7 linked regions of the Homo sapiens genome follow. The protein of the gene in region 6 interacts with the protein of the main gene of each other region in a pairwise test. Each region holds a gene or a part of one and is shown on either strand. Other genes may lie near its edges. The genes, in order: MPP1, PTN, PAWR, NDUFB3, SERPINA1, ATP5F1C and POLA2.

Region 1 (4,528 bases), on a different chromosome or scaffold from region 6:
TAGAGTGGCTACTGACTCCAGACTATGACACAGATGTATACACTAAAAAGAATAACAAAGCAAGGCAAAGAACTCAGTACTCCTCTTTCACCAGCAAGCTCCATGTTTCTTTGTTGTTTAGCTCAAACCCCAAAATGCTACCAAGTGGTACTGCTGTCCTTTCCAAGTCTAATGCAATGGGTGGCATGTGGCAATTGCTCAAATATTAACTTACTAGAAAAATATTGGTATAAATAGGTGTGAAAGAAGGCTCAGATAGGGAGATGGTGGCACTGGGCAATTCACATAGAGATCTTATCATGTACTGATTCTACAGAGCCAGTTATTAAGCCACAAAAAGTCTCTTGGCACACTCACAAAAATGCTACCAGTTTGGAGGATTATAAGCTTCATGCCCCACACCACTGAACAGGGAGTAAATTATTAATCCCTGAATCAAACCCCACCCAGAGCTCCCACAGAGTACCTTGTCTATGGATCATGCCACCATGAAGAATTCTGGCCACCGTACAGGACTGTTTTTCATTCAGCTTCAGCGTGATTCCCTGAAATAAAGGCGACGGCACAATAAGCTTTATTTTAAGCTCTTTCTGAGGTTATTTTAGAAAGAACTTACGGTAATTTCTCAGGAAAATATTTTCCATTTATACCCAGGATAGTCCTCAACTAGAACAGGCATGAAGCCTGCTTTGAGGAGGAATTTGAGATAAGAATGAAAAGACAATTTTGGGGTTGGCCAATTCCCTAACTCCATGAGCAGCCTCTTGCATTGACTCTTCTGGCCCAGTGACTCATGGGGCAGAGAGTAACTGGTGGGCGACAATATGACGGGGGATTACCATGGGCTCTTCTGTGACCTTCTCAAACTGTATGAGTCGCACTTTCCGCACCTCCTGTCCCTTGACCTGGGCAGGGCTACCTGGGGCAGGAGACCCGTTGGTGTACATGTCCTCGGTCACAGTATTCAATGGATGCGATACAGCCTGCCAAGCCAAAACAACAAAGCAACGTATGAAATCAGGAGCAAGGCCCACAGCCAGTCCACAATCTGCAATTCTAACATTCAAGAGGCTCTGAAAACTTATTTCATAAGTTTGGCCTCATTCTTATTTGAATTGACATGAAGCTGTTTGTAAGCTTTATTTCTCCAACTTAATAGACATGTCAGCCAAGTGTGGTGGTGTGCACCTGTAGTCCCAGCTACAGTCCCAGGGCAACAGAGTGAGACCCTGTCTCTAAAAATAAATAAAATAGACATGTTTATCTAGGTTGCTGCAGAAATATTAATGTGCCTTGATTTACATGGTGCTCTCCTGGATCCTGCTTGGGGTATTACATAATATATAACAAAATTAGAAAGATTCTGAATCCTGCGGCACCTCAGGCTCCAAGGGTTTCTGGCATGTTCTCTTCTCCTTTGTATTTCCTTGAACAACCTGATGCTCTCGGTCACACAGCAATAAAGGTAATTCAGGTTAGCATCAGTTTCTCATGAATCACCCCTTAGGCTACAAAGAACTTCTACCTGTAGAATTAGGCACTTAGGACTGGGCCCCGAACCGCGGTGATAACAATAATACATTGCCACTGTGACTTCTTCCCCTGATCTCAAAGACAGCAAAGCTAAATGAGTTACTCTACCAGGCAGCAAGGCCTCTTTATTATAAATCTAAAGTAATTTAAGGCACTGTGGTAAGAAGAAAGACAAACGACCCATGTAATGGAACAGAGAGTGCAAAAACAGAGCCACACATTTATAGTCAGGTGACACTGCAGTGCAGCGGGGAAAAATGGTCTGCACGATAAATGTCATAAAAGGTCCCGAGTATAAAATGAAAACTAAAAAGACAAACACTTTAAAAGTAAGAAGTCTATTCATCAAAAAACTCCACTGAGATAAGCATAGATTTAGTAGACGAGACACGGAGCAATCATCATACAAGCAAACAACTGACTTCATCAAATTCAAACATCTTACATAAGAAACTAGACAGGTATGACACAGCCTGAGAATAAACATTTGCAATATTTACATCTGACAAAGGATTTGTATCCAGAACATATAAAGAACTCTTACAATTTAATAACAGGATGAAAAGAACCATAAACAAATCCTGAACTTGAGCCAATGATATGCATGCTGAAGCTTTCAGGGGTAAAGTGCTCTGATATCTGAAACTTATTTTGAAATACCAGGAAAAAGAAGGTGGATAGATGGGCAGTTTTTGGATAGAAATGTGATAAAGCAAACACAGCAACATGTTAACTGTAGAATCTAGGAGGTGTGGCTATATGGGTGTCACTATAAAATTCTTTCATCTTTTTGGCGCCATTCCAAGAGCAGCCAGTACTCTTTAAAAAATATTATAAAATTTAATTTTTGAACCATTTGAGAGTAATCTGAAGACTTCATTCTCCTTTACCCATAGATGTCTCTATATGTTAGGAACGAGCATTTTCAAAACTGAAAATTTAACATTGACACAATATTGTCATCTGCCAACCCTTTCAAGAATGTCCTTTATAGCTATATATTTCTTCCCCAGTCCAGAATCCAACCTAGGACTTTTTGGTCCCAGAATCCAATCTAAGACCAGAATCCAATCATGCATTTCACATTTCCTTACTCTTCCTTAATTTGGAAAATTTCCTCAGCCTTTCTTTTTCTTCTTTCATGACCTTGACATTCTTGAAGAGTACACACCTGTTATTTTGTAGATGTCTCTCAGTTTGGGGTTATCATCTGATGTTTTTTCAAGATTAGACTGGGATTTTGCATTTTTGGCAGGAATTCCAGGAAAGTAGTGGTGTGCCCTTTCCAGAACAACACTACTCTTAAAAGCCCAAACCTGAAAATAGCCCAAAAGTCCATCAACAGTAGAATGGATAAACTGAAGCATATCCAAGTGGATACCCTACATCAATGGCAATGAATGGCTACTGCTACACCACTCCATGGTAGATCACCTGTGGATCAGTCTCACAGGTGATCACTCTCTTCTCCTTAAAATGCTCCTTCTCAGTTTGCTTTGCTGTTCTTTCCTCATCTTACTGATCTGGGTAAGAGCAATCACAATGGGGAAAAACTATGGAAACCTCTGAAAATGCTCCCTGCCCACCCCAGATAAAATATTAAATCAAAAATGATATAGCCACCTGGAGGAGGAGGAGGAGGACGAGGAGGAGGAATAGGCCTGAAGTGGGCTTATGGAAGGGTCTGCTGAAAATAGGGGATAGCTGCATTCCAGTCACACCCAGAGGTGACCCTCAAAGACAGTAGGGAGGGAAGATCTTCCCAATAGGCAGAACTGTGAGGAGTGTGCCATTCACTGTGTGGGGAAGGAGAAGGGTCCCTAGATGGGAATAGATGGTATGCCTGAGCAGTGTCCACTGGCCTGCCCAAGGCCTAGAAAAGGACTAGAAGATGAGAGAGAAGGAAGTCTGGAGTAGAGGCTTACATCATTTCTAAGGGACTCTGATTTCTAAGTAGAAACTTTGATAAGATGGTGAGGTTTGGGCCAGGTGCAGTGGCTAACACCTGTAATCCCAGCACTTTGGGAGGCCAAGGTGGGGAGATCGCTTAAGCCCAGGAGTTTGAGACCAGCCTGGGCAACATGGTGAAACTCCTGCCTCTGTAAGAAATTTTAAAATTAGCTGAGTGTGGTGGTGCAAGCCTGTGGTCCCAGCTACTCAGGAGGCTGAGGCAGGGGGATTGCTTGAGCTCAGGAGTTGGAGGCAGCAGTGAGCCATGATCACACCACTACACTCCAACCTGGGCAACAGAGGAAGACCCTGTCTCAGAAAAACAAACAAACAAACAAACAAACAAAAAACATGGTGAGGTTTGAAGTAGTATTCGCTATCAGGTGACCTCAAATGAGGGAAGTACTGAGAAAGAGAAACTGCCTTCTCTAGCAACTAGAACTTCAAAAAACTCACATGACACCAAGTCATATGGCATTGCTGTTATAACAAAATTGTCTAAGATAGGCTTATATTTAAAAAATTGACTTATGATACCCGGGATACACCATGTAGGTAGGAAAAGGAGGTTCTGAGGGTGATCTTGAAGATTTATTGTTAAGCAAAAAATAATAATAATGTGATGAAGGGTATACTAGCTTCATCATAAACAGTGAAAGAATGATTATATTCATATTTGCTTAAAAATCCATAAACTGGCCAGGTTCAGTGGCTCACACCTGTAATCCCAGCACTTTGGGAGGCTGAGGTGGGAGGATCACCTGAGGTCAGGGGTTCGAGACCAGCCTAGGCAACATAGTAAAACCTCGTCTCTACAAAAAATAAAAAAATTAGCCGGGCATGGTGGCGTGCACCTGTAATCCTAGCTACTCGGGAAGCTGAGGCAGAAGGATTGCTTGAGCCCGGGAGGTCAAGGCTGCAGTGAGTTGTGATTACACCACTGCACTCTAGCCTGGGTGACAGAGTGAGACCCTGTCTCAAAAAATAAAATAAATGAAAATACATAAACTATGTCTGGAAGGAGACATAAGAAACAGTGGTTGCT
Region 2 (4,528 bases), on a different chromosome or scaffold from region 6:
TTAATGCCCTCCCTGGTGGGTTTTGGGAGGGTGGGTAAGTGAGTTCCCACTCTTAGTTCCCCCAGGAGCTGATTGTTAAAAAGAGTCTGGTACCTTCCTGTCTTTCTTGCTTCCTCTCTTTCTGTGTGATGCCTGCTCCCTTTCACCTTCCACCATGAGTGGATGCCATCTGAGGCCTTCACTAGATGCCCAATCTGGAAACTTTCAGCCAGCAGAATCATGAGCCAAATAAACTTTTTTCTTTACACAGAACCCAGCCTCAGGTATTCCTTTATAGCAACACAAAACAGACTAAGATAGCTTCTATTTGTTCTAGCCTGAGTGAAGATTTTCTGTGTTACCTAAGACTGTTACCACAATATGTTCCTTATTAATTAAATCTGGACTCTGAAGCAAAAAGCCCTGGCTGTTTCTCTGGGCAGCCCCACCGTCTTCAAGGAAGTCACAAAGATGGATGATTCCTGGTCTAGTTCCATTATGGTATGGAAGGAAAGAGTCTAATGCAGTTATAGACGTTAAAATGTGAAAGAAGGGAAGACTCTTAACACTAAGTAAATATATTACATATATCTTTTTCATATTAAGAATGACTTTCTTCACAGAATTGGAAAAAACTACTTTAAAGTTCATATGGAACCAAAAAAGAGCCTGCATCGCCAAGTCAATTCTAAGCCAAAAGAACAAAGCTGGAGGCATCACGCTACCTGACTTCAAACTATACTACAAGCCTACAGTAACCAAAACAGCATGGTACTGGTACCAAAACAGAGATATAGATCAACGGAACAGAACAGAGCCCTCAGAAATAACACCACATATCTATAACTATCTGATCTTTGACAAACCTGAGAAAAACAAGCAATGGGGAAAGGATTCCCTATTTAATAAATGGTGCTGGGAAAACTGGCTAGCCATATGTAGAAAGCTGAAACTGGATCCCTTCCTTACACCTCATACAAAAATTAATTCAAGACGGATTAAAGACTTAAACGCTAGACCTAAAACCATAAAAACCCTAGAAGAAAACTTAGGCAATACCATTCAGGACATAGGCATGGGCAAGGACTTCATGTCTAAAACACCAAAAGCAATGGCAACAAAAGACAAAATTGACAAATGGGATCTAATTAAACTAAAGAGCTTCTGCACAGCAAAAGAAACTACCATCAGAGTGAACAGGCAACCCACAAAATGGGAGAAAATTTTCACAACCTACTCATCTGACAAAGGGCTAATATCCAGAATCTACAATGAACTCAAACAAATTTACAAGAAAATAACAAACAACCCCATCAAAAAGTGGGCGAAGGACATGAACAGACACTTCTCAAAAGAAGACATTTATGCAGCCAAAAAACACATGAAAAAATGCTCACCATCACTGGCCATCAGAGAAATGCAAATCAAAACCACAATGAGATACCATCTCACACCAGTTAGAATGGCAATCATTAAAAAGTCAGGAAACAACAGGTGCTGGAGAGGATGTGGAGAAATAGGAACACTTTTACACTGTTGATGGGACTGTAAACTAGTTCAACCATTGTGGAAGTCAGTGTGGCGATTCCTCAGGGATCTAGAACTAGAAATACCATTTGACCCAGCCATCCCATTACTGGGTATATACCCAAAGGACTATAAATCATGCTGCTATAAAGACACATGCACATGTATGTTTATCGCGGCACTATTCACAATAGCAAAGACTTGGAACCAATCCAAATGTCCAACAATGATAGACTGGATTAAGAAAATGTGGCAAATATATACCATGGAATACTATGCAGCCATAAAAAATGATGAGTTCATGTCCTTTGTAGGGACATGGATGAAATTGGAAATCATCATTCTCAGTAAACTATCGCAAGGACAAAAAACCAAACACTACATGTTCTCACTCATAGGTGAGAATTGAACAATGGGAACACATGGACACAGGAAGGGGAACATCACACTCTGGGGACTGTTGTGGGGTGGGGGGAGGGGGGAGGGATGGCATTAGGAGATATACCTAATGCTAAATGACGAGTTGATGGGTGCAGCACACCAGCATGGCACATGTATACATATGCAACTAACCTGCACATTGTGCACATGTACCCTAAAACTTAAAGTATAATAATAATAAAAAAAAAAGAATGAAGTTTTCTAAACACTTTTCATTAGCTTTTAAAGCAAATGAAGAAGGCAACATTTGGATCACTTACACCCTCTCCGAGAAAGACCCCAGCAGAAGCACTGGTAAGGAGGCCCAAGTGCAACATCTGGCCAGGGGCTTTTTACACTTAAGGGAACTTCAGTGAAGTCAATAGCAAATCAGGTGGTGTCTGCAATTTTCTTTCATAAATAATCATACATTGTAAATATTATTTGGTCACAAAGATGTAAGTTTTAGAAGCTTTTGCATATAACATATTGACAATGATCCTCATCATTTTTATTAAGCTATGGACATCATGACTGGAGCATTCTGATTTGTCTCCTGTTCCCTCAAGTTTGTTGAATTAAACTGTTGTGGCTTGCTACTCAAAGAGAGGTCGCCAAGCTAGCAGTACTGCAGTCACCTGGGAGCTTGGCAGAAAAGCAGACTCTGAGATTTCATTGGAGACCTACTGAATTTTGGCAAAGACCCTGGGTGACTGGTATGAACATGAAAGTTTGAGAAGCACAGTTATCCAGCTATCATGTAAATGAACTGCTGTTAGCCAATTACTAAGGCTTATATTTAGTGAGAATAACCAATTAAAAAATGTGACATGTAGCTTTTAAGACACTTCAGAAGGAAATATAACATAATCTGAGGTAAAAGAAAGCATGCCTGTTTCAGTTCAGCCTCATTTAAGATGTCTTCTCGCTTTTTTTTTTTTTTTTTAGTATGACTCATTTCTTTTTCTTCATTCCTGTCGCACATCTTACCTCCTCCTCACTTTGTGAGTCAAACTTACCTTCAAGCAACTTAGGCAATCTCTGTGTGTCCTGAGAAAATGACAATGACAATAGCAGGATTGGGAAACCAGAAAGGCAGAACTTGCCCCACTGACTTTATTAAGTTCAGTTCATGTTCAGTATAACAGTTTAGAGCTTACAGATGTTGCGTCGTGACCATTGACATTTACCACCAACCTATGAGGTTGGCAAAACAAGTAACATCATCATCATTTCCCACTTAGAGCTAAAAAACCTAAGATTTCAGAAGATTCAGTGGCACATCCAGCAGCCCATACCAAACAACAGGCGGACTGTGGTGAGATGCTGGTTCCTGACTCCAAACCTTAACTCCTTCCCTGGACTGAAGCCTCTATCAGCAGGGGTCAGAGAGAATGTGGTTATGAGCATCACTAAGGTCAGCAATAAAGTGCCTGTCTCTTGGATTGGGAGTCTTCTGTATGCAAAATGCTCTCCTATACCTTATGGGAAGGGATAAGGTCAAAGAGTCTGCATCGGAGACTTTGCCTGCCCAACCCCCAGGCCTTGAGCATGATCACATGCTCCGTATGTTTTCTTCCAGAAGAAAGGATTTTCAATCTGCATTTAGAGAGAAGGAAGAAAATGGTATGAGCATGTGGAGGGGCGAGGCCTTTCAAGAAGCATGGAATTCCACCTAGGATTTTGCTTGTATGTTTGTTGCAGATGCCAAGTGGGCATGAGAAAGAAAAGCAATTCAGGAGGGGGAAGAAGTGAGGACTTGCATCTGGTGCTGCTTCACCATGATCATCATTTTCACCATCCTGCTCAAACACTCCCAGCAATCAGACTCTATGTTCAGTACTTCACATTGATTTTCTCAATTACTACTCAGACGTCAATCCTGGAAGGTAGGTATGTGCTCCCATGTTAGAGATGAAAACACTGAAGTAAGAAAGACCACAATATTTGCTCACGGTCACAGAGCTACTAAGAAGTGCAGTGGTTTATACCTCAGTATTTTGGACCTTGGAGCTCAAATATTGAGCGATTAAGGCTACTGTTTCTAATGTTTCATCCGTATCCACATGCCCTGTCGTATGTCCAGGGTCCTTGATTCCACCTCTTAAATCAGAACTGCTGAAGATGGGCTCCAGGCAGCTGGAACCTACACATGACGCTAGTTAATCTGATAAACATTGAAGACAGGGAACTGCTGCTGTAGGTTATTTGACCTCTAACTGTACATACATTGGATTTGGGGTTTGACATGAGAGACAAATGGGAGATAAAATCTATTTATTAGCCTAAGAAAGAGATGGCATTATATTACAGAGGAATAAACTCAAACTAGGAATTTTAAGACTTTTGTTTTCATATCTGTATGTCATTGAATATGGCCCCCTTAACTTCTCTAAGCCTGCATTTCTGTATCAATTTTTTAAAAATCCCACTCAATCTACCTGAGTAGAGTTACAAAAATATGATGAAAAAATAAATGTGAAACATTTTTAAAAACAGGCCTTATAGCTACATAGAAGTTATAATGAAAATAATGCTTCAAATTACTAGCTTTGTCACTTTGAATAATATGGTTTGTTAAAGAAGAGGTAAGTAAGGTTTT
Region 3 (4,528 bases), on a different chromosome or scaffold from region 6:
AAAACTGTCCTCTGCGGTTTGCTACTTGCACAAAAGATCTGTTATTCATTAAATTGCTTTAGAAGGAATTCGTAAGAGTGGTAATCAAATTTCTAGGTGTTTTTTTTTTTTTTTTTTTTAGTTAAAAATATGAAGATTAAGGGGAAATTGAAGACAAGGCTTTGGAAAAGCTACATTCCTCAACTTGATTTTTAAAAGTAGCTGATGATCCAAATAAAAGAATTTGTCATTTTCAATCTTTTCCTCATTGTTCATCTGACAGCGGTCTTATTTTGGGAAATATCTTGGCAGATGTTAAACTTCACTTTTTTTCTGGCTGCATGTGCTAAAATTATTTTTCAAGTACTTTTTTTTTTTTTAAACAAGGGTAATGTTTACTGGGGGAAGTAAGTAGAGTGTATCTTGTGAGATCCTAAGAAACATCTTTTGTTAATACCCCTGCTTTGAGTAAGAGAACATAGTGCTGAGAATGTAGATGACTTCCCACTACAATGGAGTCTAATACTCTGGAATGTTTTTCGTTTGGGTGTTGGCAACTCCTAAATTTAATCTTCCCTGAAAACAAACAAACCAAGGGTACCTTTTTTTTTGTCTGTAGAGTTTGAACCTTTTTATTGAATAGGGAATTGAGGACTGCTTTCTTTTAGTGGTAACTATGTCTCTGTCCGTTTCAAGCTGCAGGACCCAACAAAACAGTAATGCTTCACTACAGTATCTAATTAACAGACATACTTCTTGAGCGCCTCCTCCTCATATTTTCTTATTTTTCAAAACAACTTATGTATTTCAGATTATTTTAATAGTGGTAAAATATATGATGCAAAACTTTAAAGCTGAGCCATTTTCATGTGTTTATATTGTTGCTTTTTTAGAATTGTGCCATTTCTCCTGGTAGTTTCAACATTGAGAATACCAGTTGCTGTGGAGTTTCTTGTGTAATATTTAATTTAGCACCCCTGTTTTAAAAAGTCATACATATTTTGCAAATTTTTCGGGTATGAAAATAAGTAAAAAGATGAAAATGACCAATCTCTTTATATTCAAAAGTAGACTTTATTTTATCTAATGTCGAGTAAGACTCTTATTTTCAGACATGATTCCCAACCAAGTCTGTATTAGTAGATTAACATGTAGTTCATATGTAGAGATCTGGTTTTAATGGTGGATAAACATTAAGTTCCTTCAAGGAAGTACTTATGAAACATCTGTGTGATACATTTATTGTGACTTTCATTACCTCACTTTACTAGTTATAGAGTGTATATATAATACTGTTATAAAGGTATCTGACAGCAGCTAAAGATACCAGAATTGACTAGAAGATAGTTATAGGCAAGGAACCAGGTCAAAAACCGAAACTAGCTATTTGGGAGGTAGGAAACTGGGTGGTTACTGCATGTGATGGCTGAAGTCGATCTATCCAGAGCTTCTTTAATGAGATAAAATTTACTAAGAGTTTTAAGAAAAATATCCTTTTTTCTAAATTTTTACATTTTCTATTTTTTGGTAGTAATTCACCTGAACTGGGTAATTTGGACGTGGCATACTTCTTGCCAGTAATTTTTGTGTGTGTTTATCAGATCAGTCAAATGTGTATTACATACCTGTTAAAGACACTATCCTTAAGCAGTGGAGAAAATAAGAACACGGCAGTGTATATTCTCAAGGAGCAAGGCTATAATCTAGGAAGAAGGATAAGGCATAATTACATGAAAAAATTTAAGTACTGAGTTAACAGTTTAAAAGCCATCTTAATGAAGCATGTAACTATTTATTGGAAATAGTGTGTGTTTAAAAGGGGGAGATGATTGGGCTGGGAGAAGCTATTGAGGATGAGAATCTTGACCTGAGTCTTAAACTTTTCAGTACTTGTATATTTTTACATATGTTCTCACATATGTACATGTATACATAATTGTTTGTATAGTATATTAAGTACCGACATGCAGTGGTTCTTAACTTGAGCAGCACATTGATAGCATGTTAGGATCTTTAAAAAAATGTTTGCTCATGCTAATTCAATTCCGTGCCCTCTTTGTCCCTTCACCCCACCCTGTAATATTGAATGGGTCTGGGATGGATCCCAGGCATTAATATTTTTATAAGTTCCCCATTTGATTCAAATGTGAGTCAGTGATAACAACTGTTGGACTGCAGTCTGGGTATAGAAATGAATAGGACATAAGCCTTGCCCACGAGGTGCTCTCAGGTAATATAAGGAAATGTGAAAAGTAGAGTAGTAAGTATAGCTTAGTGCCTGAGCAGGGTACCTAACCCAGGGAGGAGGAGTGATAGTTGAAGAAAGCTTCCTAGACAGTTACATACTTGTTTCCAGGGGGTTTGTGAAGTTACTGCCATTGAGTAGGGTTGTGTGAATGGGTTAATGGAGATGGGTGCCATAGAAAATGTAATCTTTGAATAGGTAGAGGTGGCACTGAAGTTTTGGTTTAAGTATAAAAGTTAACATATACAGTATTTAAAACTTCTGTTTTAAAATAGTGGTTGGCTAAAGTGGTTTAGCTTTAGTGGTTGGCTAAAGTGCTTTATGTACTGAAGTTCACAGCAATCTCATGTGGTAGTTACACTGTTTATCACTATTTCCAGAGGAGAAAATGAAGACTTAGAGCTTAAATGATTCAAGATCACATAGAAAGTAACTGATAGAGCAATATTTTAAACATTTTTGTGTATTTTGTGTGTATGTATATATCTAGGGAAAGGGGAGTTTTTAAAAATTAACCTACTTTTCATTATTCAGCATATTTCCCTAGATTTTTACATAACTTTTTATTAAAGATTATCTTAAGTAATTTAAACATCTGAATGAGGAAAACAGTAAAGGTATGGAATTGAATAGAATTTCAGGTCAAATTTGTGGACTCAGAGATTGCCTCTGACCCTCTAACCTATAGAGTGGCAAAATTTTGAACACCAGGCTCTCGGCAAAACGTAAATTTATTTTTGGCTAGTGGTCAGAAAATGTGAATCTTTGATTTTACCTAAGTGATATATTGTTTTTCTATCAAGATGGGGTCATGACACCTACTCCATAGTTTGAACTCGTGTTGGTGAAAGGGAAGATAAAGGAGCATTTAACATATAGAAAGCACTTTTAAGTGAACACAGGTTAGGTCATAATTATTTAGTATGTTTATTGAACATTATATATAGGACAAGTTCCACTTAGTAAACTTTATAAATCCAGGTGGATTAAGAAATGCCTTTTGTTATTCCCATTATGCTCCAGACTGTCTACCTTTCTGTGTGATGAGTCAGGAGAGAAACTAATAATGACTCAGAGTTGGAGAAAATTTGATTCGTGAATGGGGTAGATATAGTGTAAACACTGAGACTGTTTAGTGTAAAACCTGGGCTATTAGCCCAGCTTTCCTAAATGTTTGAGCTCACTGGTAAAGTAAATTGAAATTTTAATATTATCAGGATTTGTACTGAGTTGTCTGAGCTGGGATGTCATTTCTCATAAAAATAATAATTACATAATTAAAGTAGATGACATTTATGGTGTGCTTATTAAGTGCCAGGCACTGTTCTAAGCACTTGACATACATTAGTGCATTTAATTCTCACCACAGCCCTATGGGAAAATGGGGAAGAGAAGGTATGTTACTTGCTTCAGGTCATACATGTAGTGAGAAGTAGATTAGAGATAGTTTGCACTCACAGTCTTGTGCGTAATAAACCATCTTACTACACTTCAGTGTATTACATACTGTATACCTAGTTTAAGAAATACAAAGAATATTTTAGTGTTAAATTGTTAGTATATGACTATGGAATTTAAAAATAGCCCTATTTATAGAACATAGATGAAGTGAGACTTTAATGGAAAATTTTGAGAACAAATGAATATATAAACACTGGCATTAAAATTCTTATTTAAAATCATTATCAAGCTAGTGGCCTGTTTATACTATTTTCTTTGTTTTTTTCTTTCTTTCTTTTTTTTTTGAGGTGGAGTCTTGCTCTGTTGCCCAGGCTGGAGTACAGTGGCATGTGGTGTGATCTCAGCTCACTGCAGCCTCCACCTCCCGGGTTCAAGCAATTCTCCTGCGTCAGTCTCCCAAGTAGCTGGGACTGCAGGTGTGCACCACCATGCCTGGCTAATTTTTGTATTTTTAGTAGAGATGGTGTTTCGCCATGTTGGCCAGGCTGCTCTCAAACTTCCAGCCTCAAGTGATCTACCCGCCTCAGCCTCCCAAAGTGCTTGGATTACAGGTGGGAGCTACCGTACCAAGCCTATCTATGCTATTTATTATTTCTGCATTTTTTTTTTAGCACCTATGATGTGTGCCAGAAAATAATTATGCCATTTAATAGCAAGGTTGATATAATGTTTTATAAGTATAAAATTATTGGCAAATATTAGGGTTTGACATTTTCTCTGTGCTTTTTTTCCTTTTTTAAAAATTGAGATATAATTCACATACAATAAAATTTACCCTTTTAAAGTGTACAGTTCAGTGGTTTTTTAGTATTCACACGGTGTGCTCTTAAGTGCTTTTATATT
Region 4 (4,528 bases), on a different chromosome or scaffold from region 6:
TAACACAAGTGAGAAATATGCAAATTGTAGATATCAAATACCCAAATTTATTGTTTATGTTTTAAGGTAAAGCATTTAATATTAAAAAAAAAAGCCAATATAAATACTTGAAAATTCCAGTTAAAGGATTTTATAAAAGTGTCTTATTCTACAACCATGTTCACAGTTAGGAAATACACATACACAAAATATAAAAAAGAAAAATAATTGGCAATCTCATCACTCAGAGATAACCATTTACTATCTGGTTCTTTTCTTCATTATAATAATAGTAAACATTTGCTAAAATGCTTTATGTGTATTAACTCCAATACCTCTAAAACAACTCTTTATAAATAGTAAACATATGCTAAAATGCTTTATGTGTATTAACTCCATTACCTCTAAAACAACTCTTTGAACTTAAATAATGAGTATCCCCATTTTACAGATGAGGACAATGAGACTCCAAGCAATTAAGTAACTTTCCAAAGGTAACAAAAATAGTAATGGTACAGCTGGGATTAGAACCTTGCAGTTTGGTTTTAGAACCCTGCTCCTAACTTCTTCTTCTTCTTATTTTTTGAGACGGCGTCTCGCTCTGTCGCTCAGGCTGGAGTGCAGTGGTGCAATCTTGGCTCACTGCAAGCTCCGCCTCCCGGGTTCACGCCATTCTCCTGCCTCAGCCTGGCGAGTAGCTGGGACTACAGGTGCCCGCCACCACGCCCGGCTAATTTTTTGTAATTTTAGTGGAGACGGGGTTTCACCATGTTAGCCAGGATGGTCTGAATCTCCTGACCTCGTGATCCACCCACCTCAGCCTCCCAAAGTGCTGGGATTACAAGTGTGAGCCACCGCACCCGGCCCCCTGCTCCTAACTTCTAAGCAATATTGTTTTCCTTTTGAATCCTTTCATAATGCATAAATATGTATAATAAAAAGGTTATACATCCTGTTTTAAAAATTTTCTTTAGATGATTCTTTTAAAATGCAATGCTTTTAAATACATATGATTACATGAAAGGTTTCTTTAAAGAGGCAGATCGTAAATATTTTAGGCTTTGTGGGTAAAAGAGGTAAAATTGAGGCAATTATGTAGGTACATTTATAGGAAGAGAAAACACACTACCGCAAATACCTTATTGATAAAATTCAAAATGTAGTAAGTAACTGACTACAAATTTTTTTGTAATACAGGTCTACTGACGAAAAAAATGGAACTCCCCTTTTGGGGGTAACATTCTACTTAACTGGAGCTCAAAGTTAGTGATCCTTAGCATCAAAGTCATTACAAATGTTCATTTGTAAAAACCATTCTTAGCTCATGGACCTTACAAAAACAGGCACTGGGCTGGATTTGGTCCACAGGCTGCAGTTTGCCGATCCCTGAACTGGGCCAACAGATACCTTAGGACTCCTTTTTAATCAATAAATTTGCTTCCTTAATTAAAACATGTCCTCAATGGTTATATAAATACTTTGGTTTTACTAGTGTTATTTTAATATATAATATAAAAATAAACCAGCTCAGTCCTCATTTAAATTGCTAATTCAAATTAAGGGGTATGGCTTAGTAACACTATACTATAATTTGTGTAAGGTTGGCAGTAGCAATCCTTTTATTTTTTTTTACATTTTTATTTTTCTAATTACTTGGCAAGCAGTAGCAATTCTATAATCACTGCTTTTCCGGAAGTAAAATCAAGTAAATATTACCATTATGTCCATATTTATAACTATGAACAGGCCCAATAAGGTAGGATTTCTTTTCTTTTCTTTTGTTTTTGAGATGGAGTTTTGCTTTTTGCCCAGGCTGGAGTGCAATGGTGTGCAATCTCGGCTCACTGCAACCTCCGCCTCCTGGGTTCAAGCGATTCTCCTGCCTCAGCCTCCTGAGTGGCTGGGATTACAGGCATGCGCCACCATGCCCGGCTAATTTTGCATTTTTAGTAGAGATGGAGTTTCCCCATGTTGGTCAGGCTGGTCTCGAACTCCTGACCTCAGGTGATCTGCCCGCCTCCGCCTCCCAAAGTGCTGGGATTACAGGCGTGAGCCACTGTGCCTGGCCTGGTAGGAATTCTTACATTGCATCTCAGAAGAGAGAGGTAATTATTAAAAAGTGTATATTAAAGACACATTATTGGGAGGCTGAGGGATGAGAATCGCTTGAACCCAGAAGGCAGAGGTTACAGTGAGCCAAGATGGTGCCACTGCACTCCAGCCTGGGCGACAGAGTGAGACTCTCTCAAAAAATAAGTAGTTCCAAGATATGAGAAAAAAATTGTACATACTAACTGTGAAAAACCAACACTTATTATTTGTAAACATGTTAAGATACTAAAAAACATTATGTTGATGATTTTCACATTTAATTATATATATATATATATATATATATATATTTAAAGATAGAGGGTCTTGCTCTGGATCATAGCTCACTGCAGCCTCAAACTCCTGGGCTCAAGTGATTGTCCTGCCTCAGCCTCCTGAGTAGCTAGGACTGGAGTGTGCACAACGCCTGGCTAGTTTTTAAATGTTTTATAGCGATGGACCCTCCCTATGTTGTGCAGGCTGGTCTCAAACTCCTGGCCTCAAGTGATCCTTGATCCTCTGGCATAGGCCTCCCAAAATGCTGGGATTACAGTGGGATTACAGCCACACCCAGGAGGATTTTCACATTTAAATGAAAATGAAAATGAAAACCGATACTCTCAAACACAAGTTAAAATTACAACACAACTCTGAATGAAACATTTAACCCATTATTACTTGGTAGATTCAATAAAATGAAGGAAAAAAATTATGGTGTCAGACTTCAGACTGACTTTTGAGACTGAATACATTTATTACAAACGAAGACCATTACAAGTGTTTATTTAGAATGATAATGTCTTGGCTTCTGCATACCATGTTTTCAAAAAATCTTTTTTAAAATAAGGCTTCATTTTAAAAACACTTAAAACAAGACAAACCCTTATTTTGGCAAATGTCAATTCTAGAATATCAACCTGAGTATCAGTGTATTTGGAAGAGAGTATAAAACAAAGGGTCAAGAATTTTGATAGAATAGTTTTTGAAAATAAAACTTGAAACATTACCATGGTATAAAGACTATTTCAAAATTACAATACTACTGTGCTTAAACAAGTAATTTGAAAGATAAATCTTTGAAAGAAAACATGAAAGCGTACATACCCTCATTTCTCCTATACAAGTTTATTTAAATACATTCAATGTATTTTCTCTTCTACCTAATTATTTCAGAAGTATCCTTTTCATAGGAATTTACTAAATATACCTTTTTTTTTTTTTTTTTTTTTTGAGACAGAGTCTCGCTCTGTCGCCCAGGCTGTAGTACAGTGGCGCAATCTTGGCTCACTGCAACCTGTGACTCCCAGGTTCAAGCAATTCTCCTGCCTCAGCCTCCCGAGTAGCTGGGACTACAGGAACCCCCCACCACGCCTGGCTAATTTTTTGCATTTTGTAGTAGAGATGGGGTTTCACCGTGTTAGCTAGGATGGTCTCGATCTCCTGACCTTGTGATCCGCCCACCTGGGTCTCCCAAAGTGCTGGGATTACAGGCATGAGCCACGGTGCCCGGCTAAATATAACATATAAATGACTTTTCAAAAAGAGCAGAAAGTTGAAAACACTTTCTCTAGGAAACCTTTCATTTTCTTTTTTCTTTTTCTTTTTTTTTTTTTTTTCAGACAGGATCTTCCTATGTTGCCCAGGCTGCTGTTGAACTCCTGGCCTCAAGCATTCCTCCCTCCTTGGCCTCCTAAAATATTGGGACTACAGGCGTGAGCCATGGCACCTGGCCCATTTTTCTTTTTAAACTTATTTCTATTTCCAAATAGCCATAAATCAAACAATGATATCGTGACCTGTAAAGTAAGAGCTTGAAATTCTCCTACTTTGCACTAGTAAAAGTAAAATCCAAGGCAAATCACTTAATTTCCCTGAACTTCAGTTTCTTCATATAACATGAAGATAAAACCTACCTTGCAAGATCGTGAGAGCTGAGGAAAACACATTGTGATGTGCCTTCTACTTTCATACTTAGGTGGTGAGAATGTAACTAAGCACAACCATTCTGAAAAACTGGCAAGACCTAGAAAGGCTGAACATGGCTGGGCGCAGTGGCACACGCCTGTAATCCCAGCAATTTGGGAGGCCAAGGCAGGTGGATCACTTGAGGCCAGGAGTTGAGACCAGCCTGGCCAACATGGGGAAACCCTGTCTCTACTAAAAATACAAAAATTAGCCAGGTGTGGTAGCACACACCTGTAGTCCCAGCTACTCAGGAGGCTGAGGAATGAGAATCACTTGAACCCAGGAGGTGGAGGTTGCAGTGAGCCGAGATTGCGCCACTGCACTCCAGCCTGGGTGACAGAGTGAGATTCTATCTCAAAAAAAAAAAAAAAAAAAAGCTGAACATATGAATACCTTATGGCCATCAATTCCACTCCTAGTACATATATTCTAGATAGACACTGTCCAATATGGTAGCCACTAGCACTTGAAATGTGGCTGGTGCAGTTGGGAA
Region 5 (3,500 bases), on a different chromosome or scaffold from region 6:
TTTGTCCATGCTAAGATGAGAAATTAGCACCTCAAAGAGGTAGAATGCATTGTTTTTGTCAAAAGCTAATTGTGTTAGAGGCAGGATTTGAACCCAGGTCTTTCAGATTGCAAAACTGATACTGATTCTGGGACACTAGAGTCGTGTAAAGTATGTTCCATGAAACTATCCCTTTATGCAGTGTATTACAATTTGTTCTATAGTTCTAAGCATTATATATTCTACATATACAGTATACACAAGGACATTAAAGGCTCTGAAAAGTTCTGCAGAGCTGTCAGTAGTTTTGACAGTTTAATCTATTATTTCCTCAAATTACTCAATGATGGAAAACATTTTAGTGTTTGTGTGTAGAAAACTGAAGAATCCACGCTGAAAAGCATTGCTATGGCCCATAATGCATTGCCAAGGAGAGTTCAAGAACTGATGGTTTGAGAATATTTTTGCTTGTTTCTATGGGAACAGCTCAGGCTGGTTGAGCAACCTTACCTTTAAAGAAGATGTAATTCACCAGAGCAAAAACTGTGTCTCTGTCAAGCTCCTTGACCAAATCCACAATTTTCCCTTGAGTACCCTTCTCCACGTAATCGTTGATCTGTTTCTTGGCCTCTTCGGTGTCCCCGAAGTTGACAGTGAAGGCTTCTGAGTGGTACAACTTTTTAACATCCTCCAAAAACTTATCCACTAGCTTCAGGCCCTCGCTGAGGAACAGGCCATTGCCGGTGGTCAGCTGGAGCTGGCTGTCTGGCTGGTTGAGGGTACGGAGGAGTTCCTGGAAGCCTTCATGGATCTGAGCCTCCGGAATCTCCGTGAGGTTGAAATTCAGGCCCTCCAGGATTTCATCGTGAGTGTCAGCCTTGGTCCCCAGGGAGAGCATTGCAAAGGCTGTAGCGATGCTCACTGGGGAGAAGAAGATATTGGTGCTGTTGGACTGGTGTGCCAGCTGGCGGTATAGGCTGAAGGCGAACTCAGCCAGGTTGGGGGTGATCTTGTTGAAGGTTGGGTGATCCTGATCATGGTGGGATGTATCTGTCTTCTGGGCAGCATCTCCCTGGGGATCCTCAGCCAGGGAGACAGGGACCAGGCAGCACAGGCCTGCCAGCAGGAGGATGCCCCACGAGACAGAAGACGGCATTGTCCTGCAAGACAGAGATGGGGGGGCCAGGCCCCGAGTCAAGGCACATGATGACTCCCAGTGATCAGGGATTGACACCACGTGGAAGTGCCTAGGGATTATTAAACCAGCCTGTGCCAAGTACTTGCCGACATCAGTAACACTGAAAGAATCAGAAGAATAGCAAAATGTACGTAGTGCTTACCATATGCCAAGCACTGTTCTCCGTGCTCACATGTGTTAATTCATTGCTTTCTTGTAACAATCCCGTGAGGTGCTAATGCTAATATCCTTCTTTTACAGATGAAGAAACCAAAGCCAGAGAGATTAGGTCAGCTATTCAATGTCACTGAGGAAGTAGCAGAACCAGAATCCTACATCTAGGTCCTGCACCCAGGCTCTGGACAGCAACACTTACATCTGCAATGACCCTAAGATGCAAATGGTACAGCCATTGTTTTACAAAAGAAGAAAATGAGGCACAAGAAGAGGAATGGGCCTGCCCACGATTATCCAGGAATCGGGCCAGATCAGAATCAAGAATCATGTCAAGCTGGAAGCCCTTGGAGGGCTTCTATCTAATCCCACTATTTAGTGGCCAGGGAAACTGCTGCACAGAAGGGAAATGCATCTTGCACAATGGCAACAGCTAGAGAGCATGGAGGGGCTGTGATTAAACCTCCTGGGAGCTGTTCCCACCCAACACTCACAAGGATCCTCAGCCCTTAGGGTTTTTTTCCCAAGAGACGGGGCTGTCCCCACAATGCTCTGTGGTCCCAGACACAAGAATAGGCTGATGCTCCTGCAGTCAGCTTACCTGCCGTCTGGGTCACTAATGGTGTCCCAGTTCTGGGCTCTTGCTGTCAGGGGCTTTAGAGACGCTCATCTCTCCTTGAAAGCAGGGGTTTGTGCTGCTTTAAAGTAGATGGAGGAGGTGGGAAGTGAAAAGACACCTCTTTTAACTTCAGATAGACCTGGGATCTAATCTGACTCTGTCACTTTCCAGGTGTATGAGCCAGGACAAGTCATTCATCTCCCTGGTCCTCATTTTGCCTCATACATAAAGTGATGTTTATGTATGAGAATTTAGTGAAATAAGTCTCAACACCAAACCTTACATCAAAAGGATCTGAGAGGGCAACTCTTTTGAGGGAGGGGTTGGCAGGTGTTGCAAATTCAAAGGCTTCAGGTGATAGGCCAGTGAGGAATACATGTTTCATACCCGGGGCTGAGACAATAGGGAGTGGTGGGGCCTGTGGCTGAACCAGCGAGAGCAGGCTCTGCCGAGCAATGGTCAAAGTCAACGTCATCCACAGCAACACAGAACCTGCCCTGCCCCACAGTGATCCTTCTACTCCAGATATGCCCAGGCTTCGGACCACCAGCCTGCAGCCCCCTAGGTAGAACCTGCCGTCTTCACAGATGGGAAAACTGAGGTCCTAGCTGAGGAGAATATGCCCGGCAGCCACATTGTTAACTACTAGTCACAAAACCAAAACCATCATCTTAACAAAATACAAAGAAAAAGGTGTCCTTGAATTTGGGAAATGAAAAACTGGAGAAAAAAAGCTGGAAATAACAAATATTGAGATTCTTCAACCCCCTTGGACTTTTAAAAGTTTCCTTCCAATAAAGCAACAAATGAAGTGCAAAGCTGGTTTCTCTCCACCACCTTTCTCCTGGCCCTCGTGCCTCTAAGTAATCCAAATGGAACAGACCACACATTACATAATACATGTTTGTATTTTTCTTCAGCTAGCTAGTGTTGTTAGAACTAAAGACGGTGCTAAAATTAGTGCTGTATATTTCCATCTCCCTTTAATTTCTCTTTCACTTCCCAACTGAACTTTGTGCAGTCCTTCATGGCTTATGGAAATTCCCCCATCATTACAGGGCTCAGTGGTCAGGAGGGAGTTGGGCCTCTGCAGGGTGGGGACACTAAATATGCTGAGTGGCCTCAGGGCCAGAGGTTGTGGCTTCTAGCCCTGGCAGGGCCATCACTATCCACTTGGCCTTTAGCAAGAATCCTCTGGTCCTGGGGCCTCACTCTCCCCAGTTGTGCAAAGTGGGGCTGGGAGAAGACTTCACTGGGGCCCTCTGTACACTAACATAGGTTTTTGGGTTTTTTTTGAGACAGAGTCTCGCTTTATCTGCCAGGGTGGAGTGCAGTGGCGTGATCTCGGCTCACTGAAACCTCCACCTCCCGGGTTCAAGAAATTCTTCTGTCTCAGCTTCCCAAATAGCTGGGATTACAGGCGTGTGCCACCACGCCTGGCTAATTTTTGTATTTTTAGTAGAGCTGAGGTTTCACCGTGTTGGCCAGGCAGGTCTTGAACTCCTGACCTCTTGATCCGCCTGCCTTGGCCTCCCAAAGTGCTGGGGTTAC
Region 6 (4,528 bases):
CCTATACACATAGCCTGAAGGCAATTTTATGCAATATTTTAAAGAATTTTCTGCATGAAACAAAGTTTCAAATGCACCCCATCACACAAGGTCAGGTGTGGAATTTTCCACTTGTGGCATCACGTCAGTGCTCAAAATGTTTCAGATTTTGGAGCACTTCAGATTTTGGACTTTGGGATTAGGGATGCTCAACCTGTATTACACTAAATTCGTTTCAATTCATTATTATTCTTTTTTACTGGAAAAAGCATTGAGTGCTTGCTGGCTTTGTAACAGGCACATGCTAATGCTGTCCAGAGGGCTTCATAACCACGAGATATAGTGCAGTTATTTCAAATGTTGACCTAATTTTTCTAAAGTTACACATGTGGAGTAGAATATCAAATGGTTTATTTACACATTATATTTTGCTAAAAATATGCTATCATCTGTAGTGTGGAAATAGATGACATTATTAGAACAGATTCATTTACCTTATCTAGCATTAATTTCTGCTCTGTAATTATAAAGGAGTTTTACACTGAAAAGCTGTTTTTGATGAATTACTATTCCTTCCATATAACTTGAAAGAAACTCATCACTTGTTTTAACAGACAGCATGAGTATCTATGACGATATTGATGCTGACGTGCTGCAAAATTACCAAGAATACAATCTGGCCAACATCATCTACTACTCTCTGAAGGAGTCCACCACTAGTGAGCAGAGTGCCAGGATGACAGCCATGGACAATGCCAGCAAGAATGCTTGTAAGTACACAGTATGGACAGTGCCAGCAGGAGTGCTTGTGAGCACACAGTGAATCTCAGCTGAGAGGAGTCCGTGGCCGAGAGTAGCATCAACAACATTAACATGATATTCCTGTACCTGTAAGAAAGTATATCTTGATAGGTAGTTGATTTGCAAGTACTGTGAAAAGGTATCCTATGGAAGATGTAAAAATATCTTCATAACATTATTTGAGAGGCCAATTTTGGTATCCAAAAATTTCTTACTTTTAAATTAAGCAACAGAAGTTAGTTAACAAGTTATTCTACTCTAGTTTCAGATTTTTTATGTAGTGTTTTTGTTTTGTTTGTAGCTGAGATGATTGACAAATTGACATTGACATTCAACCGTACCCGCCAAGCTGTCATCACAAAAGAGTTGATTGAAATTATCTCTGGTGCTGCAGCTCTGTGAGTAATTGTAGATTGTCGCCTTCAGAGAATTTTTTTTCCTCTTGCTGTGTCTGCTTGTTTGGATGCTTAAAAGTTTTTCGTTTTTTTCTTTTGAAGTTGAAACTCATTGCTGAAACTTGCATCCTAACTCTTAGGCTATAAAGATGTGGTAAAAATGGGACCTCTTTGCTTTATTTTTATTGTTTCAGCTGGAAACACTCGGGCTTAGTTTTCGGTTTTCTAAAGGATTAGGAATGGGATGTGGATAATTCAGTATCATTTATGAAATCTTTTTTTGGAATTTAAACAATTGTAAGCCAAGCTTTCTGAGTTACAGGGCTAGTTTCAGATTTGGTTTTACATAAATCTATAAACCATTGCATGTTGGGAAGGTCCAGGAATTTTTTAATCATTATGTTTTTTAATCATTATGTTTTCTATATCAGTACCAAAAGATAGTATAGCCATCCCTCAGTATCTGCAGTGGATTGGTTCCAGTACTCACTCTCACCTCCCCCAGGATACCAAAATCTGAAGATCCTCAAGTCCCTGAAATAAAATAGCACAGTACTACATATAAAAAATGCACATCCTCTCGTATACTTTTAATCATCTCTAGTTATAATGCTATGTAAATTGTTGTTGTATTGGTTTTTGTTTTTATTATTTTATCATTATTTTTGTCTTTTTTCCAAATATTTTACATCGGCTGTTGGTTGAATCCATGGATACTGAGGGCCAACTATATACTGCTTTCCTCAAGAAAATTTCTTAGTTGTTGAAAAACTTTAATGTTTATGAAAAAAAGGTTAAGATAATGGGAATTTTATTCAAAAAGTTATTAAGTTGAATACCCACTATGTGCACAGTACAGTGCTAGACACAGTGTTAAGGATGTGATTCTCTCTTTTAAGGCACTTATATTCTAATAGGATAAGAAACATACAAGTAATTGTGATTAGATAAAACGTGTAGTAAGTTCTTTTTGACTCGTTCCTTCTTACCTCCTGCTAATCAGTTACCATGCTCTTTAAGTTTTACCTTCTAACTATCTCTTGAATCTTCCCCCTTCTTTATGCCCACTTAATGCAGATCCTTGTCATTTCTCTCCTGGGTTCAAAAAGGTAATTATTTGAGTGCCCCTTAAGTGTCAGGCCCTGTGCTAGACACTGAGGATACAGTGGTAACAGTATTTGCCTTCAGAGAGCTCAGTCTTCACAGTAAAGGCAGACACTAAATAAGAAGTCACAGCAGAACAGAGGTTGCTAAACTGTGGCCTGGAGCTAAGAATGGGTTCTGCATTTTTAAAGGGATATAAGAAAAAGGAGAGTGATAGCGTGTGACCCACAGAGTGCAGAATACTTGCTGTGTGGCCCTTCACCGAAAAAATTTGCCTATTCTTGTGACAGTGTTATGAGGAAAATAACAAAATCCATTCTCTGTTATACACTCATTCTGCAGAAACACTCGATGTATGTGATCCTATATTTTCTGGTCACCAGCACTCTTCCCAGTCCAGTCTCTTACCATTACCATTTCTCACGTCCTTGAACCTCAGCCACCTTGATCTACTTCCAGATCTACAGATTCGTCACTCTTTCTCGCGGCCAGGGAGTGGCATGTGCTGCAGCCTGAAAAGCCACTATTTCTTCCCTTGCTCCCTTGATTCTTCATCTGACTGCCTCCTGTGTATCCTTCCTTACTCAGCTGGGGGAATCCTTTCTTCCAGAAAACACTCCTTCCTTCAGTCTGAGTGAGGCAGCCTTCTGCAGCATCCTGTCTTCCATTTAGCTTAGCTCTTACAGCCTTGTATGAGGAATTGGCTTTTTATTTGTCTGTGTGCTCCTCGAGGCTAGGATGGGACCATATCTTATTCACTTTTGTGTCCCCATTGCCTGGTACATACCTCCTTCGTGAATGTTGAATGAATGAATGAAATGCCATATGTATTCAGAACTGGAAGTTCAGAAGAGGGACAAATAACATTTTATTGGGTGTATGAAAATGTGGGTCCATGGTTTTAAGAGTCAGGGAAAAGTTCATCACTATTTAAAGTGTTCCTTAAGTGTTACTTTTCAAGGGCAGAAACTGGGCAGAATGCCAGAGAGACACAACTAGAACTTTTTGAGCCAACAGAGACCTTTGTGTAAGTTGTTAGTTGGATCCATCAGCCTCGCTATCCTAAGCATTCTTCTCTTATTTTACTTTCTAAGCACAGCTGTGTTAGGACTAACCCATTCACAGCCTGGTCACCAATGTTCTATCAGCATCACAGAATACTGTCTCATGGTGTCTAGCTTGATGAACTTGGTTAGGATACTCTCTCTGTTACTCAGCTTTGTCATCTGTAACATGGGGACTAATACAAGGACTAAAACCTTCTATTAGCCATTATCCTTCTTGCCATCTACCCCATGTTAAAGCCAGGCTGATTTGTTCTTGGATCTTAAGTGTGACAAAGCCTGCGGGAAGGAACCACATTCTGAAGGTTTGTGGGCTGTGTGAGATCCAGAGAACCCAAGGGGGTTTTTTTGCTCTTGACAAACGAATGTTAGGTATGACCTATGATGATACAACTTCTGCAAAATTGAGGACCAGCCTATTTCTTCATTAGAAATGCAGGAAACCTGGCCGGGCGCAGGGGCTGACGCCTGTAATCTCAGCACTTTGGGAGGCAGAGGTGGGCGGATCACAAGGTCAGGAGATTGAGACCATCCTGGCTAACTCGGTGAAACCCCGTCTCTACTAAAAATACAAAAAATTAGCTGGGCGTGGTGGTGGGCGCCTGTAGTCCCAGCTACTATGGAGGCTGAGGCAGGAGAATGGCATGAACCTGGGAGGCGGAGCTTGCAGTGAGCCGAGATTGCGCCACTGCACTCCAGCCTGGGCAAAAGAGCAAGACTCCTTCTCAAAAAAAAAAAAAAAAAAAAAAAGAAATGCAGGAAACCTATTTAAAAGTAACAGAAACAGCTGGGTGCATTGGCTCATGCTTGTAATCCCAGCATTTTGGGAGACCGAAGCGAGTGGATTGCTTGAGCCCAGGAGTTCAAGACAAGCCTGAGCAACATAGCAAGACCCCATCTCTACAAAAATGAAAAAATTAGCCAGGCCTGGTGGCATGTGCCTGTTGTCCTAGCTACTCAGGAAATTGAGGCAGGAGGATTGCTTGAGCCCAGGAGTTTTAGGCTGCGGTGAGCTATGATCGTGCCACTGCACAAAACCAAGAATTTAGAAAAAGGAATCCACATAATTGGAAATTGAGTATTAAGTTTTTGCTTCCTAGGAAGGTAGTCTAAATCCTTATACAAAAACTTAGCTATGCAGTGCCAAGGTTGGATTGCTTGTGAATGGGTTTGCATGCTCTGTAA
Region 7 (4,528 bases), on a different chromosome or scaffold from region 6:
CGTACCTCCTGAGCCTATAGTTCTAGTTACTTGAAGTGGGAGGATTGCTTGAGCCTGGGAGGTTGAGGCTGCAGTGAGCTGTGATCATGCCCACTGCACTCCAGTGAGACTGTCTCAAAAAAAAAGAAAAAAAAAAGCCCACGAATTTATTATATTACAGTTCCAGGGGTCAAAAATCCTAAACTGAAGGTGTGGGCAGGGCTGAGTTCCTCCTGTCTGGAGGTTCTAGAGAAGAATCCATTTCCTTGCCTTTTCCAGCTTTCAGAGGCCACCTGCATTCCCTGGTTCATGGCCCCACCTGCAGCGGCAAAGCCAGAAGCCTAAGATTTCTCTATTTTGAAATAAAATTTTTCTTTAGGCTTCCTCAAATCACAGCAGCCTAACATTTCTAAGCTCTGACTCTGATTCTCTTGCCATTCCTCTTATAAGGACCCTTGTGATTATAGTGGACCCACCTGGATAATCCAGGCTAATCCCCCATCTCAACAGCCTTAACTTAATCACACGGGCAAAGTCTCCTTTACCACAAATGGTAAAATATTCACAGGTTCCAGGGATTCCTGGGGCTGTGATTCAGTCTATCATGGTAATAATACCATGAACTGACAGAGCATTCAAGGTGAAGAGCAGGTTTCATGTGGTGGTGGGGTAGGGGACAAAGTTAAGTTTGGCTCTGAGAAGCCTACAGGAGATGTGAGCCCCAGTGTAAGCAGTGAGTCTCTGGAGGGCGAGGGCCATGTCTTATTCTGTATCTCCATGAGTGCCTCATTTAATTCCTTGTACAAAAGTTCATTAACAACCTGTTAAACTGTTTCCAAAGGCTTCTCTGGTACACAGCTCAGGCTCCTGGTATCTCAGCCAGGTTGATTTCATTACCTGAAGTTGACCTAATACCAGCATGCCACCCTTGCCCCCTATAAATTTGTATTTTCTTTTTTTTCTTTTTCTTTTTTTTTTTTTTTTGAGATAGGATCTCACTCTCACTCCTAGGCTGGAGTGCAGTAGTGGTATGATCATGGCTCATGGCAGCCTTGAACTCCTGGACTCAGGAGAGTGATCCTCCCACCTTAGCCTTCCAGGTTGCTGGGACTATAGGCACATGCCACCATGCCCACACCCAGCTAATTTTTTTTTTTGAGACAGAGTCTAGCTCTGTCGCCAGGCTGGAGTTCATTGGCGATCTCGGCTCACTGCAACTTCTACCTCCCAGGTTCAAGCGATTCTCCTGCCTCAGCCTCCTGAGTAACTGGGATTATAGGCACACGCTGCCAAGCCAAGCTAATTTTTGTATTTTTTAGTGGAGATGGGGTTTCAGCTTGTTGGCCAGAATGGTCTCTATCTCCTGACCGTGTGATCCGCCCACCTCGGCCTCCCAAAGTGCTGGGATTACAGGGGTGAACCACTGCGCCTGGCCTAATTTTTGTACTTTTTGTAGAGATGAGGTTTCACCATGTTGCCCAGGCTGCTCTCAAACTCCTGTGGTCAAGCAATCCTCCTGCGCCAGCATGAGCCACCACGCCCGGCCAAACTTGTGTTTTCTGATAAAATGTGCAATATCACAAGGTCCTAAATTTCACTCCTGATTCTAGGTCATCTCCAAGAATGGCTCTGGCCACTGTTACATGCATGGGGTGTTGACAACATGCTAGTATCAGTGATCTGGTTGCTAATCCTTAACAGTGCTCCACTGTGCTTACAAAAATGCCTTGAGGGTTGGGTGTGGTGACTCATGCCTGTAATCCCAGCATTTTGGGAGGCCGAGGCGGGCAGATCACCTGAGGTTGGGAGTTTGAGACCAGCCTGACCAACATGGAGAAACCCCATCTCTACTAAAAATACAAAAATTAGCCAGGCATTACAGGTGCATGCCTGTAATCCCAGCTACTTGGGAGGCTAAGGCAGGAGAATCGCTTGAACCCGGGAGGTGGAGGTTGCGGTGAGCCGAGATGGCGCCTTGCACTACAACCTGGGCAACGAGTGAAACTCTGTCTAAAAAAAAAAAAAAGAAAAAAAAAACAATGCCTTGAAATACAGAAATACATACATATATTTTTTTGAGACAGGGTCTCACTCTGACACCCAGGCTGGAGTGCAATGGCACAATCATGGCTCACTGCAGCCTTGACTTCCTGGGCTCAAGCAATCCTCCTACTTCAGCCTCGCAAGTAGTGGGGACTATACAGGTGTGCACAACCACACCAAGCTGATTTTTTTTGTTTTTATTTTTTGTAGAGATGCAGACCCACTATGTGCCGGGAGGCTAAACTTAAACTGGGCTCAAGCAATTCTCTCACCTTGGCCTCCCAAAGTGCTGGGTTACAGAAGTCAGCCATCACACCTGGCCACCTTGAAATAAATAAATTCTATCTATCTATCTATCTATCTATCTATCTATCTATCTATCTATCTAGTGTCTTACTCTTTCACCCATGCTGAAGTGCAGTGGCATGATCACGGCTTACTGTAGCCTTGACTTCCCAGGCTCAAGTGATCCCCGCACCTCAGCCTCCTGAGCAGCTGGGACCACAGGCACATGCCACCATGCCGAGCTAATTTTTTTTTTTTTTTTGTAGAGACAGGTTTTCGCCATATTGCCCAGGCTGGTCTCAAACTCCTGGGCTCAAGTGATCTTCCCACCTCAGCCCTGTGAAGTGCTGAAATTATGTTGAAATATTTAGAAGCAAAGTTTGTCAAACTTTCTTTTTGCCTTTCCACAACTAGATTAGTTACCACATAACACTAGGGTTTTAAAGAAATTCTTTTTGGCCGGGCATGGTGGCTCATGCCTGCAATCCCAGCACTTTGAGAGGCCAAGGCAGGCGGATCACAAGGTCAGGAGTTCAAGACCAGCCTGACCAACATGGTGAAACCCCATCACTATGGGGTTTTGTAAAAATACAAAAATTAGCCGGGTGTGGTGTACGCCTGTAATCCCAGCTACTTAGGAGGCTGAGGCAGGAGAATCACCTGAACCCGGGAGGCGGAGCTTGCAGTGAGCCAAGATCTTGCCACTGCACTCCAGCCTGGGGGGCAGAGCGAGACTCCATCTCAAAAAAAAAAAGGAAGTTATTTTTAAGTTTTCACTTTAGAACAAATTTAGAATTGTAGAGAAGTTATGAAGATAGTACAGAGTTCCTGTGTGTCTTTCACCAGTGGCCCCTAATCTTAACATGTTAGGTAACCATGAACATTTGTCAAAATTAAGGCATTAATGCTGGTATATCGCTGTTAACTAAATTCCTGGATTCTCGAGGTTGAGTGTTAGAGCCAGAAAAATAAAAAAGTAAATTCCTGGCTTTATTCAGATGTTGCTAGTTGTTCCACTGATGTTCCCGTTCTCTTCAAGGATCCAATCCAGGATGCCACATTATACTTTCAAAAAATTAATTAATTTTAATTTTTTTTAAGAGTCAGAGTCTCGCTCTGTCACACAGGCTGGAGTAAAATGGTGTTACCATAGCTCACTGCAACCTTGAACTCCTGGGCTTAGGCAATCCTCCTGTCTCAGCCTCTGATTAGCTAGGACTACAGGCATGCACCACAAGCCCAGCTAATATTTTTTTTAATTTTTAGTAGAGACAGGGTCTCCCTATGTTGCCCAGGCTAGTTTCCAACTCCTGGCCTCAGGTGATCCTCCCACCTTGGCCTCCCAAAGTGTTGGGAATACAGGTGTGAGCCACCGCATCTGCCCATGCTGCATGTAAATAAATTCTTTTTGAAATCGTACATCTTTTCCTTTCCAAGGCAACCTTCAAAAATACCTGTTAAACATTAGTCTTTAAACAACATGCTTCATGTAGGCAGAACTCAGGCGACAGCACGACCAACGCTCACTGGGCTCAGACCAGGGGTCTTGTGACAAAAAACCTACGAACTCATGATGGTGGCGCCCTCACTGCTTGGTCACATTGCTCTTCAGCAGCTTCTGCAGCTTTCTTGGGCTTGGGAAACTGCACTCCTGGACTCATGTCTACCATCCTCATTGTTGGCAAAACAATATTTGAACCGAAACTCACCTGCATCCTCTTCAGTGGGCTGATAAAATGGAAGTGGCACACCCTAAAAACAGGGGAAAAGCTCAAGTAAGGTCTTGCGCCAGGCATCACCTTGGTAAGGAAAGGGGAGGGCACCAGGTTGGGGGTGGTGCAGGTGTGTGATGGGAGGACAGTGGGGAGGAGCGAGAGGGCAGGGGAAGGATGTGCCTCTGTCTTGCTCCCTGGATCTGATGGGACCTGCCATTTTTCTATACTGCTCAGAGGGCAAAGAAACCCAGGTAATGGGAGGTCACTACTCAATTGTCATAAAATACCCAGCAACAAGTGGGAGCAAAACAGGTGCCTAAAGTATCAGTGTACTTCTAGGCAAGGATGGGAGAGAATGGTTTCTTGCTACTTTTCCTGGCATTCTACGAAAATCTCTGGAGGATTGTTGCCTAGAGCAGGGATAGGTAACCTTTCGGCCTCTGGGCCAAATTTGGCTGCAGCCCACTATTTAAATAAAGTTTTATGGGAACACAGCCACAGTCATC

What was found.
Region 1: the proteins of ATP5F1C (region 6) and MPP1 interact in a two-hybrid assay, tested with the Homo sapiens proteins (one large-scale study listed by BioGRID and IntAct).
Region 2: the proteins of ATP5F1C (region 6) and PTN interact in a two-hybrid assay, tested with the Homo sapiens proteins (one large-scale study listed by BioGRID and IntAct).
Region 3: the proteins of ATP5F1C (region 6) and PAWR interact in a two-hybrid assay, tested with the Homo sapiens proteins (one large-scale study listed by IntAct).
Region 4: the proteins of ATP5F1C (region 6) and NDUFB3 interact in a two-hybrid assay, tested with the Homo sapiens proteins (one large-scale study listed by BioGRID and IntAct).
Region 5: the proteins of ATP5F1C (region 6) and SERPINA1 interact in a two-hybrid assay, tested with the Homo sapiens proteins (one large-scale study listed by BioGRID and IntAct).
Region 7: the proteins of ATP5F1C (region 6) and POLA2 interact in a two-hybrid assay, tested with the Homo sapiens proteins (one large-scale study listed by BioGRID and IntAct).

What each region holds. Positions count from the first base shown.
Region 1 is NC_000023.11:154,791,303-154,795,830, forward strand, and holds part of MPP1 (55 kDa erythrocyte membrane protein), read right to left. Parts: intron 984-4,528; coding exon 840-983; intron 546-839; coding exon 467-545; intron 1-466. UniProt on the Homo sapiens protein: Essential regulator of neutrophil polarity. Regulates neutrophil polarization by regulating AKT1 phosphorylation through a mechanism that is independent of PIK3CG activity.
Region 2 is NC_000007.14:137,333,074-137,337,601, forward strand, and holds part of PTN (pleiotrophin isoform 1 precursor), read right to left. Parts: intron 1-4,528.
Region 3 is NC_000012.12:79,684,059-79,688,586, reverse strand, and holds part of PAWR (PRKC apoptosis WT1 regulator protein), read left to right. Parts: intron 1-4,528. UniProt on the Homo sapiens protein: Pro-apoptotic protein capable of selectively inducing apoptosis in cancer cells, sensitizing the cells to diverse apoptotic stimuli and causing regression of tumors in animal models.
Region 4 is NC_000002.12:201,074,338-201,078,865, reverse strand, and holds part of NDUFB3 (NADH dehydrogenase [ubiquinone] 1 beta subcomplex subunit 3), read right to left. Parts: intron 1-4,528. UniProt on the Homo sapiens protein: Accessory subunit of the mitochondrial membrane respiratory chain NADH dehydrogenase (Complex I), that is believed not to be involved in catalysis. Complex I functions in the transfer of electrons from NADH to the respiratory chain.
Region 5 is NC_000014.9:94,382,103-94,385,602, forward strand, and holds part of SERPINA1 (alpha-1-antitrypsin precursor), read right to left. Parts: intron 1,278-3,500; exon of another isoform or gene 1,140-1,277; 5' UTR 1,136-1,139; coding exon 490-1,135; intron 1-489.
Region 6 is NC_000010.11:7,801,677-7,806,204, forward strand, and holds part of ATP5F1C (ATP synthase F(1) complex subunit gamma, mitochondrial isoform L (liver) precursor), read left to right. Parts: intron 1-593; coding exon 594-749; intron 750-1,081; coding exon 1,082-1,178; intron 1,179-4,528.
Region 7 is NC_000011.10:65,282,010-65,286,537, reverse strand, and holds part of POLA2 (DNA polymerase alpha subunit B), read right to left. Parts: intron 4,060-4,528; coding exon 4,017-4,059; intron 1-4,016. UniProt on the Homo sapiens protein: Accessory subunit of the DNA polymerase alpha complex (also known as the alpha DNA polymerase-primase complex) which plays an essential role in the initiation of DNA synthesis.